3 linked regions of the Homo sapiens genome follow. The protein of the gene in region 1 interacts with the protein of each later gene in a pairwise test. Each region holds a gene or a part of one and is shown on either strand. Other genes may lie near its edges. The genes, in order: UBXN6, PLEKHB2 and SVIP.

Evidence for each region.
Region 2: the proteins of UBXN6 (region 1) and PLEKHB2 interact in binary tests that used the Homo sapiens proteins (3 or more experiments, as listed by UniProt).
Region 3: the proteins of UBXN6 (region 1) and SVIP interact in binary tests that used the Homo sapiens proteins (3 or more experiments, as listed by UniProt).

What each region holds. Positions count from the first base shown.
Region 1 is NC_000019.10:4,451,209-4,454,860, forward strand, and holds part of UBXN6 (UBX domain-containing protein 6), read right to left. Parts: intron 2,886-3,652; coding exon 2,722-2,885; intron 2,315-2,721; coding exon 2,250-2,314; intron 1,285-2,249; coding exon 1,156-1,284; intron 1-1,155. UniProt on the Homo sapiens protein: May negatively regulate the ATPase activity of VCP, an ATP-driven segregase that associates with different cofactors to control a wide variety of cellular processes.
Region 2 is NC_000002.12:131,108,238-131,111,889, reverse strand, and holds part of PLEKHB2 (pleckstrin homology domain-containing family B member 2), read right to left. Parts: intron 1-3,652. UniProt on the Homo sapiens protein: Involved in retrograde transport of recycling endosomes.
Region 3 is NC_000011.10:22,823,269-22,826,920, forward strand, and holds part of SVIP (small VCP/p97-interacting protein), read right to left. Parts: intron 1-3,652. UniProt on the Homo sapiens protein: Negative regulator of the ER-associated degradation pathway (ERAD) of misfolded proteins. It competes with AMFR/gp78 for binding VCP/p97, and inhibits AMFR/gp78-VCP/p97 complex formation that is required for degradation of ERAD substrates.

The sequences.
Region 1 (3,652 bases):
ACCACGCCTGGCTAATTTTTGTATATTTAGTAGATAGGGGGTTTCACTATGTTGACCAGGCTGGTCTTGGAACTTCTGACCTCAGGTGATCCACCTGCCTCAGCCTCCCAAAGCACTGGAATTACAGGCAAGAGCCACCGCGCCCAGCCACTTACTATTTTCTGAGAAAGGGTCTCACTTGTCACCCAGGCTGGTGTGCAGTGGCATGATTACAGCTCACTGCAGCCTCTACCTCCCAGGCTGAAGCAATCCTCCCACCTCAGCCTTCTGAGTAGCAGGGACTGCAGGTGCACGCCACCATGCCCAGCTATTTTTTTTTGTTTTTGGCAGAGACAGGGTTTTGCCATGTTGCCCAGGCTAAAGCCGAAGTTTCTGAGAACCTATTGATGGTGTTAAGTGAGGACTTGCTGTATTGGAAAAAAATGCTGTGGACGTTTTTATTTTTTGAGATGGAGTTTTGCTCTTGTTGCCCAGGTTGGAGTGCAATGGCGCTATCTCGGCTCACCACAACCTCTGCCTCCTGGATTCAAGCAATTCTCTTGCCTCAGCCTCCCGAGTAGCTGGGATTACAGGCATGTGCCACCATGCCTGGCTAATTTTGTAGGAAGTTCTTTCTGTATTGAAGCAAATAATACTTAACCTTTTATGAAAAACAACCAGGCCACGCGTGGTGGCTCACGTCTGTAATCCTAGCACTTTGGGAGGCTGAGGCGGGTTGATCACTTGAGGCAAAAGTTCGAGACCAGCCTGGCCAACATGGTGAAACCCCATCTCTACTAAAAATACAAAAATTAGCCAGGCATGGTGGCAGGTGCCTGTAATCCCAGCTACTTGAGAGGCTGAGGCACGAGAATCGTTTGAATCCAGGAGGCGGAGGTTGTAGTGAGCCGAGAATGCGCCACTGCACTCCAGCCTGGGTGTCAGAGTGAGACTCCATCTCAAAAAAAAAAAAAAAGACACCTAGTTGGGAGAGAGGAGATACAGATGCATACACAATGGTGTGCCTGGATTTGGGGTATCAGAGGAGGGGCTTCACTACTAGCAGTGGCCTCTGGGGACTCTGGGAGGGATCTGTACCACCTGGGCTTCCGATGGAGGGTGGCTCAGGCACAGGAAGCTACAGGTTGGGGCAGGAGCACACAGGGTGCCACTCACCAAGAGAATGGCCTCCTTGATGCAGGCGTCCCGCTGGTCCTTCCTCAGGGTGGCCCCAGTGAGCGGACAGGTGAAGTACACGCCAGGCACAGCCAGGTGGGCAGAGCCTTCCTCTCTGGGCTCAGATACCTGGGGCGGTGAAAGCGTCCAAGTCTGGACCGTGGACAGAGGCCACCCCGACCCTCGCCGAGCACCACAGTCCTGAGTGTGGCCCGTAGAACCAGACATCTCCAGCCCCCATGCTGTCCCTTCCACCTGGTGGCCGTGGGAGACACCCTGGCCAAGTGACCGGATCCCCGAGTCTTTTCCCTGGTATGTCAAATGTCCCTGTGGGGCCTGCTCAGAACTAAACGAGGTAAGGAACGGAAAGTACGGAGCAGCTTCTGACACGCAGGAAACACCCAGCAGATGGCAGCTGGGTTCCTGCTGGTCCTGTCCCCAAGCTGTTGAGGAAGGAGCTCTGTGTGGGTGTCTGCGGGCACAGTGCGCTGGACAAGGCATGACTTCTGGGCCTCCATTTCTAGGCCATCTCTAAGGTCCCTGCGTGCTAAAATTCACTGAATCCTCGAGGGTCAAGCTGCTTAGAACTCCTTTCAGCGGAGCTCTGAAGGCCCACCTCCTAGAGGAAGGCCTCCCTGATTCCACCCGTCTCCACAGAGCCTCTTGACCTCCAAGGCAGGCAGGACTGGGCAGTGCTAGGGGACAGGCTCTGAAACCACAGACTGGCTCTGGTCCTGCCTTTGCTGGTCCTGGGGTGTAGGAGAGAGGACAGCTGGTTTCACCTCTCTCAACCCCGGTTCTCTTTTTGAATAGTGGAAACTGTAACTGCATCTGCCCTTAAGGGGTTAAGGGGAGGGAGCGATGGGCTCGTGTACCTGAGGCCCACTTCTCCAGGCCTGAGCCGGCATCCTCAGCTGCCGAGCCCCGAAGGTCCCAGACAACACCGTGTTCCACCACAACCTGTGTCCACCTTGCAAGGCAAGGTTTTCCAACAGCCCTTGAGCCCCAAGGGCAGAGGCCACATCTCCCCCGTGACACAGTCAAGCTGTCCCCACCCCTTGGCATGGGACAGTGCCACCAGTGGCTGTTCTTACCACGTTGGTCCCTGGGGCCTCGGGGCTCCCGCTGACGGTGGCTTCGGCTTGAAGTTCCTTTCTCACTGGAAGGCAGCCCAAGAAAGAGAGGCAGAGACGGGATAGTGAGCACGCCGCTGTCCTGGCCCAAGCCCCCTCATTCCCGGGGTGGGCCTGGGGGCCACGCACACCGCCCCAGCCTGCTTCTGCTGGAGGTCAGGCTGGAGGTCCCCTGCAGGACTTGCTGTGCAGCCACCCCTCAGCCTGAGCAAGCACCCCACTGCCTGGGCAGCCCGTTTCTGCTCCAAGTCTCTGCTCCCACCCCCTCCCCAGGAAGCTGCCCTTCCCCCAGCACCTGCCCTTGATGAGCCGCTCCCAAGGGTGACCCTCACACCCCCACGGTTGCTCATGTGACTTCTGCATCCAGGGCCAGGCACCAGGGCCGAGAACCTCAAACAGCCCCAACCTGGGCCCGAGGAGGGCCATATCTCACCCTGGTTTCGGATGGTGTCCTGCGATGTGGGGCCCCAGGCCCGGGACTGCTTCTGCTCCAGCCGGGCTAGGGCGGCAGCGGCTGCCATCTGTGCCTCATTGGTGGGTCCCTGGCGGGGCGGCCTGGGGGCTGGCTGGTTGGGCTTCTCTTTGTGGGCCTTTTCCCTGGGAACAGACCGAGGGAGAGTGAGTGTATCCTCCCGAGGTGGCCGGCAAAGCTGACGTGCAGTCACACAGAGGAGCTTCTGCCCCTCCCCAGCACCATCAGCCAGACGTGTCCCTGCCTATGTGGGCCAGGACACCTGGTTCCCAGGGGCCACCTGCAGCCACCAGATGGTTCTACTGCAGGCGGAAGAGCCCCTGGAGGAAGGAGATGCTGGTTCCACTCAGCTCTGCACCATCGGGCAAGTCCTGCCCCCACTGGCCCTCAGCGTCCTCATCTGTAAAATGGGGTGACAGCACCCCTCCTGAGGTGAAGGCACCTTGACATCCTCAGTGCTTTTTTTCTTTTTGAGACAGGGTCTTGCTCTCTCACCAAGGCTGGAGTATAGTGGCACGATCATGGCTTACTGCAATCCTGAGCTCCCAGGCTCAAGGAATCCTCCCGCCTCAGCCTCCCAAGTCGCTGGGACTTAGAGGCAAGCATCATCATGCCTGGCTAATTTTTCTATCGAGACAGGGTCTCGCTATGTAGCTCAGGCTGGTCTCGAACTTTTGCCTCAAATGATCCTCCCACCGTGGCCTCCCAAACTGCTGGGATTATAGGCATGAGCCACAGCACCCAGCCCGCATCCTCAGGAATTGAGGAGACTCAAGGGGTGTCACATCCTCCCTCCCTCCCTGCCATAAGACTCTCCACCCTCAGGTCACAGCTTCGTTTGCTGAGCACCTACTGTGTGCCAGGACCCTGCTGGGAGCTGGTCGGCTCGCTT
Region 2 (3,652 bases), on another chromosome or scaffold:
AAAGATAGAGATTAAAGAAAATAAAATTTTCAAGAAAAAAACCTCAAGAATCAGAGACAATGCTGGGTACAAAAGAAAACTTTAAAAATATTACTTTACAGCTGGCCACAGTGGCTCACGCCTATAATCCCAACACTTTAGGAGGCCGAGGAGAGTAGATCACTTGAGGTCAGGAGTTCGAGACCAGCCTGGCCAACATGGTGAAACCCCGTCTCTACTAAAAATACAAAAATTAGTTGGGCGTGGTGGCAGGCTCCTGTAGTCCCAGCTACTCAGGAGGCTGAGGCAGGAGAATGGCGTGAACCCGGGAGGCGGAGCTTGCAGTGAGCCGAGATAGTGCCACTGCACTCCAGCCTGGGTGACTGGAGTGAGACTCCATCTCAAAAAAAAAAAAAACAAGAATAAAAAGAAATATTCAGAGCTCTCAATTAAAAATAATAACCAAAATTAAAAATTCAATACAAGAGTTGGAAAGATCAAGATGGAAGAAATCTCTCTGAAATGAAGAGCTAAAAAAAAAAAAAAAAAAGACCAAGAGATGGAAAAAAATTAGAGGATGAGCCTGGAATATAAAATATTCTGCTGGCTGGGCACAGTGGCTCATACCTGTTAATCACAGCACTTTGGGAGGCTGAGGTGGGTAGATCACTTGGGGTCAGGAGTTCAAGACGAGCCTGGCCAGTATGGTGAAACCCCATCTCTACTAAAAATACAAAAATTAGCCAGGCATGGTGGCACGCACTTGTAGTCCCAGCTACTGAGCAGGCTGAGGCAGGAGAATCACTTGAACCCGGGAGACGGAGGTTGCAGTGAGCTGAGATCCCACCACTGCATTCCAGCCTGGGCATCACAGCGAGACTCCGTCTCAAAAAAAAAAATTCTGCTTATAGGAGAATTTCATAAATAAACCACAGAGAAAAGAGCAGAGAAATAATACTATAAAACCATTTCCTGCAACAGGATAACACATTTCTAGATTCAAAAGATCCAATGACTGTCCAGCATGATGAATTTTAAAAGATTCTCCATAGGTAGGATGACTGAAATTTCATAACATCAAGGACAAAGAAGAGAACCTAAAAACTTCCCAAAGAAAAAAGCATATATAAAGGATCAACAATCAGCAAGACACAGGACATCTAGAGCAATACCTTCAAAATGCTAACGGAAAATTATTTCCAAGCCAGAATTCCACACCCAGTCAAATCATTAATCAAGGCCAGGCATGGTGGCTCTTGAGCATAATCCCAACACTTTGGGAAGCCAAGGTGGGAGAATCGCTTCAGCCCAGGAGTTTGAGACCAACCCAGCAACACAGTGAGACATTCTCAACAAAAAAATAAGAAGTTAGCTGCACATAGTGGTGCACGCCTGTAGTCCCACCTACTCGGGAGACTGAGGTAGGAAGATCGCTTGAGCCCAGAAGGTAGAAGCACAGTAAGCCATGAATGATCATGTCACTGCACTCCAGCCTGGGCGACAGAGTAGGATTCGGTCTTCAACTGGCAGGGGAGGAAATTCCCAGAAAGGCAGCTGTGCAGAAGGACTGGGGAGGAAAAAAAAAAAAAAAAACAGTCCAGACTGGAGCAGGACCGAGTACTACAGGGGAGGAAAAAAAGTAACTGACAAATTTCCTACAAGTTTTTGACTCACTGGTGGATTGAAGAGTTTTACAAGGCAGCAAAAGTCTTCTATGATCAAAAGTCAAAAGATTACATGTAAATCAATAGCAATTTTACCATATCCACAAAGATAAAATACTATTTTTTTTTTTTGAGACGGAGTCTCACTCTGTCACCCAGGCTGGAGGGCAGTGGCGCGATCTCAGCTCTCTGCAACCTCCACCTCCCAGGTTCATGCCATTCTCCTGCCTCAGCCTCCCGAATAGCTGGGACTACAGGCAACCGCCACCACACCCAGGTAATTTTTTTGTATTTTTAGTAGAGACAGGGTTTCACCGTGTCAGCCAGGATGGTCTCGATCTCCTGACCTCATGATCCACTTGCCTTGGCATCCCAAAGTGCTGGAATTACAGGTGTGAGCCACCACACCCAGCCAAAATACTATTTTAAAAAGTGCCAAAAAAAGGTGAAAATAGTTGTCTATAGTTTAAAAAGGGGGTGGACAAGAGATTGATATATTTTTTTTTATTCTAAGGTTTAAAGCACTATTTGGTTGTTTTTTTTGTTTGTTTGTTTTGAGACAGAGTTTCGCTCTTGTTGCCCAGGCTGGAGTATAGTGGCGCGATCTTGGCTCACTGCACCCATCGCCTTCCAGGTTCAAGCGATTCTCCTGCCTCAGCCTCCCAAGTAGCTGGGATTACAGGCGCCCACCACCACGCACAGCTGATTTTTGTACTTTTAGTACAGACGGGATTTTACCACGTTGGTCAGGCTGGTCTCAAACTCCTGACCTCAGGGGATCCACCCGCCTCAGCCTCCAAAAGTGCTGGCCTCCAAAAGCTTGAGCCACCACGCTCAGCCTATTTGGTCTTTCAATCTATGTACATGTATTATTTTGATAAATGTAAACATGTAAACAATAACCTGAATTATCTTCAACTATACCAAAACAAAAAAACCAACCTAAATTAATCTACCTATTTGAACCTTCCAACAGTGCTCTGCTTTCGTTTTTAAATTGGGGAGAGAAATTTAGAGAGTATCTTTAGAAACCAAAAATCATGAAGTATGATTTTGATCACATTTTGTTTTGTTTTTGTAGAGACGAGGTTTCACTATGTTGCCCAAGCTGGTCTCGAACTCCTGGGCTCAAGGGATTCTTCCATCTCAGCCTCCCAAAGTTCTGGGATTACAGGTATGAGCCACTGCAGTCAGCCTATCATATGCTTTTGAAATTTCACAGAACCCAGTGTTTGGGTATAAGCTTTAGAGTTAAAAGACCTATGTTCAGATCCTGACTCAATCGGACAAGTCACGTTTCCAAGCCTGATCTATAAAACGAAAATTCCCACCACCTACTTGACAGGATGTTCGGAAAATTGGGTGAAATAATATGTAAGTAGTTGGCATGGTGCCTCACAGTTACTAGAACTCGATAAATGGTAGCTGCTTTGACAGCAATTATTACTATTTACTACTATTATTACTATTACTTATTTTCCCCCTTACCAAAATTTGCCGAAAATATTCTAGAACAAGCTTGTCCAACTCATGGCCCCAGCCCAGGTCAGCTTTGAATGCAGCCCAACACAAATTTGTAAACTTTCTTAAAACGTTATGAGATTTTTTTGCAATTTTATTTTTTAGTGCATCAGCTATCATTAGGGTTAGTGTATTTTATGTATGGCCTTCTTCCAATGTGGCCCAAGAAAGTCTAAAGATTGGACAGCCCTGTTCTAAGAACAAGGACATCAAGCTGCTTCTCAAATGGCTCAGAAGACTTCTGTTTGATTGCCTTAGCATGCTGAATTTCACACCACTCCATAACTTAATTCAACATTTCACTATTTATATCCTGGAGCAAAACTGAATGCATAAACTAAAACTCATCAGATAAACACTAAGCCCTAGCTGTTGGTCTCTAGAGAATAAAACACCAGCAAACTAGCTGCAAAAGAACATTATTTTTATGCCAATAAAACCTATGCAAAGCTTTAAAATGTAAGCCATATTCAACAATTTAAATTATT
Region 3 (3,652 bases), on another chromosome or scaffold:
ATAAAATTTTACATTATAGTCCAAAGCCTGAAATAAGATGATAGTTTAAAAGCATAAAGAAGACAAAATATCTGGTCAGATTGGTGGGTAGTTGCAGGATAGCTCTGTCTCACTGTCTTGCCTGTAGTTTTCAAGAGTAACTGTAGAATGTGCTGGGAATGTAACATCCTGGGATAGCAAATGAATGGCCAAGGACAGCTCAAGTTCTGTTCCAGTCCCTCCCTAAAGACAGGACGTCCTTCAATGCTTTAGCCCAAGGAGTCATGTAGTACCTCCCCTTCTAACCCCCAGGTCATAAAACCCAGGGCACTCATCTGAGGTTCAAGTGGGGCACACACAGATGTCATCAACCCCAGGCAGTTTTCCTTGGGAGACAAGCTTATAATGAATCCTAGGCTTCTGTTGTCCCTTGTTGCCAATCTGTAAGTAATAAACTCACTCCACGTTAAATGTTTTTGGTTTTGTTTTGGGATTTTCTTGAGACAGGGTCTCACTCTATCGCCCAGGCTGGGGTGAGGTGGGAATGGCTCACTGCAGCCTTAACCTCGCAGGCTCAAGTCATTCTCCCACCTCAGCCTCCCGAAAAGCTAGGACCACAGGCACATGCCACCACACCTAATTTATTTTTTATTTTTGTAGAGACAGGGTCTCGCTATGTTGCCCAGGCTGGTCTCTTAACTCCTGACCTCAAGTGATCATCCCATCTTCTCAGCCTCCCAAAGCCTTCCTCTCACAGCTGAGATTACACGTGTGAGTGACTGTGCTCAGCCTCTTCATGCAAATGTTACATGCATGAGTATTCTGTCCACTGGACTCTGAAGTTGGTAACCACTGCACAGTGAACCTGCTATTCAGTAGCAAGAGCCTAAATATCCAATAATCAGTAAAGGAACACAAAATAAAACACAACAAAACAAAAATTTAAAAATTCTTGTTTGAGCCAGGGAGTCAAGAAATGGCAGAAACCATTAAAAAATGGTTTGGCAAGGTCTTTTCCTTCTTGAGTTAAGAAAATATTCCATTTGCCCCTTTGTTTAATGAAGTCTATTAAATCTGTGATAGGTCCTGAAGAGCCATTAGGATAGAACCAGAGATATTTGGCAATCTCTTGATAGTGTTTTCCAAGTACATCCAAGGAATATTATTGGGTGTTTTATATATATATATACACACACACATATATATATATATACACATATATATACGTATATATATATGTATATATATACGTATATATATACACACATATATATATAAAATCTATGTTTAAATAAATTTTCAACATTAAAGATTAATCCAAGTAAACTTGCTTTTCTTCATTGTACAATTTCTTAGAGGCCATAATTCTGTGCCTTTTTTAGTCTCTAAGAAGGGGATATAGTCTACAATATACAATTTAGCATTTTTAAACATTTATTCCCATGGGACTCTATCTTCCAAAACATCTCTCTTAGGACAAGTGTTATAAACGCTAGGATAGTGATTCTCAATCTGGGTTCACATTAGATTACCTTGGGAAGCTTAAAACAGTCCTGATGGCTAAACCCTACTCTCAGAGACTGACTGGTGTGAGGTGGAGCCCAATGAACAATCCTTTTTGAAAGCTGCCTATGAAACTCCAACATGCAGCTAAGGTGGAAAGCCATTGTACTAGAGGTCTACCCTTACTCCCGTGCTGCTATATCCTGTACTGATAGTACTTTGCATCCTGATGCCATCATCACATTGACTTCTTCAGGTAAGAAGTCAGAAGACAGCATTACCCATGCTAATTACCCTGGAAAGATGCAGCACTGGTCAGGAGATGAATAGGTGAAAGGCATGAAGACAGGGAATGCAAACTAGACTCATACTCTAGGTAGAGTCAGGTCAGAAAGACTCTACCTAGGGAAGAGTCTTCCTAACCTTCCTACCTTAGGAAGACTCTACCAATACTTCAGGCCAGCCCATGAAACAAGCCAGACAGCAGCCATTAAAGGACCATAGGCCAAGCGTTTTGAGGGTTAAGTACTTCTGCCTTGTATTTTTCCCTTCTGTTATCCCTGAGCCTTCCAGAATTTTTTCACTTCATGCTCTTGACATGTTGTGCATGTGTCAAGCAGAATGGAGCATGCCACTTGAAGCTAGTGTGGTAGTGGTAGGTGATGAGGAATATTCCAAGGAAAAATTACTCACAGTGGACAACAGCAGTGGCTAATGACAGTGAGCCACTGGAGAAAATCCTCCTGCCACTATATAGTTTCAAGGTCCTGAAGGTCATTTTTACTAAGTGAGTTTGAGAGATTTCTTACAAGAACAGTACACAAAGAAAAACAGAAACTAAATTTAACTTTGGGTATGTTTTACATTTTGAGCACTTTTGAATGGATTGTAAGTAATATAAGGCCTAAATTTTTTTTTTAATCTATAGACTTCAGAGTGTGGAAGCTTCAAGTTTAAGAAAGCCTCTTTCTTTATTATACTTTAAAAGCTGATGTTAATTTCATTAGGTTAGAACTTGTGAAGTGTCTTCTTAATTATGATTAAGTGTTGATTAAATTATCCTTTTCCTATAACATTACGTATGACTTTAACTTAATACCTTCACCACTTCTACTGTGAAATAGTGGATCTCATTATTTCCAGTCCTACAATTTAACTTTTGTAATTTTGTGTTTGTTTTTGACAACCCTATATGAAGTAAACCTAGTGAAACAGCACTTTATCTCAACAGAATATTGAGATATGATAAAGAATTGACCTCGTTATCACCCAACTGTTTTACTTTACACTAGACCTATTCTGTTCTATTATGGAATTATAAAAAACATAAGCAAAATGGTCAGACTTATTTACCTTATATTGAAACTAATTATATATTGCTAAAAGTTCACCATAAAAAAACTTCATAAATTTTCATTCGTTAAATGATATAAGATGAAGTAACGTACAATAGTAAAATACACAGACACACATTCTTATTTCTGTGATATTCTTGAGCCAGAATCAACTGCTCAGGGTGTTCATAAACTGCCTGCCCCACAAGTTACGAGAGTATCTACATGTAGGCAAGTGTATGTGTATATGTCCATGTATATGTATGTGCATGTGTGTGTGTGTGTAGTTTTGAGAGAAAAAAAACCAATAAATCTGTTGAAAGGTACTCATAAATCATTGACAAGTTAAATATAAATGACTGAAATTAAAGACATTGTCCTTTTCACAAATATACTACTATTTACTTTAAAAATGGACCAAGAATAAATTCTTAATATCTGAGCCATTATTTTCCTGAGCTTTAAGGGATTTTAAAAATAAATCCTTTAAAGTCCTGCTAGAGTGTAAAGACTCCAGCATTCAGAGACTCTGCTTAACTTGTCCACCATTATATTCCCAGTGTCTAGCTCTGGGATCCATATCTAGGGAGGTATGTGTATGATACCCACACCTGTATACATTCTGTAATCCAAATTAACATTTACATAACTATAATAAACAGGGGCAATGGAAAGATCAAAGATTCCAAATCAATGCGTAAAAGAGCTCAGGCCATAAAACAGAACTTATAGCGTAATCCAATTTAATAAGATATATAAATGAAGGTTAGAAATTATGTCTGTCAAAATGGTACTTAGTTTGGATGACTTTTACACTTCTTTATACTTCTCCATAT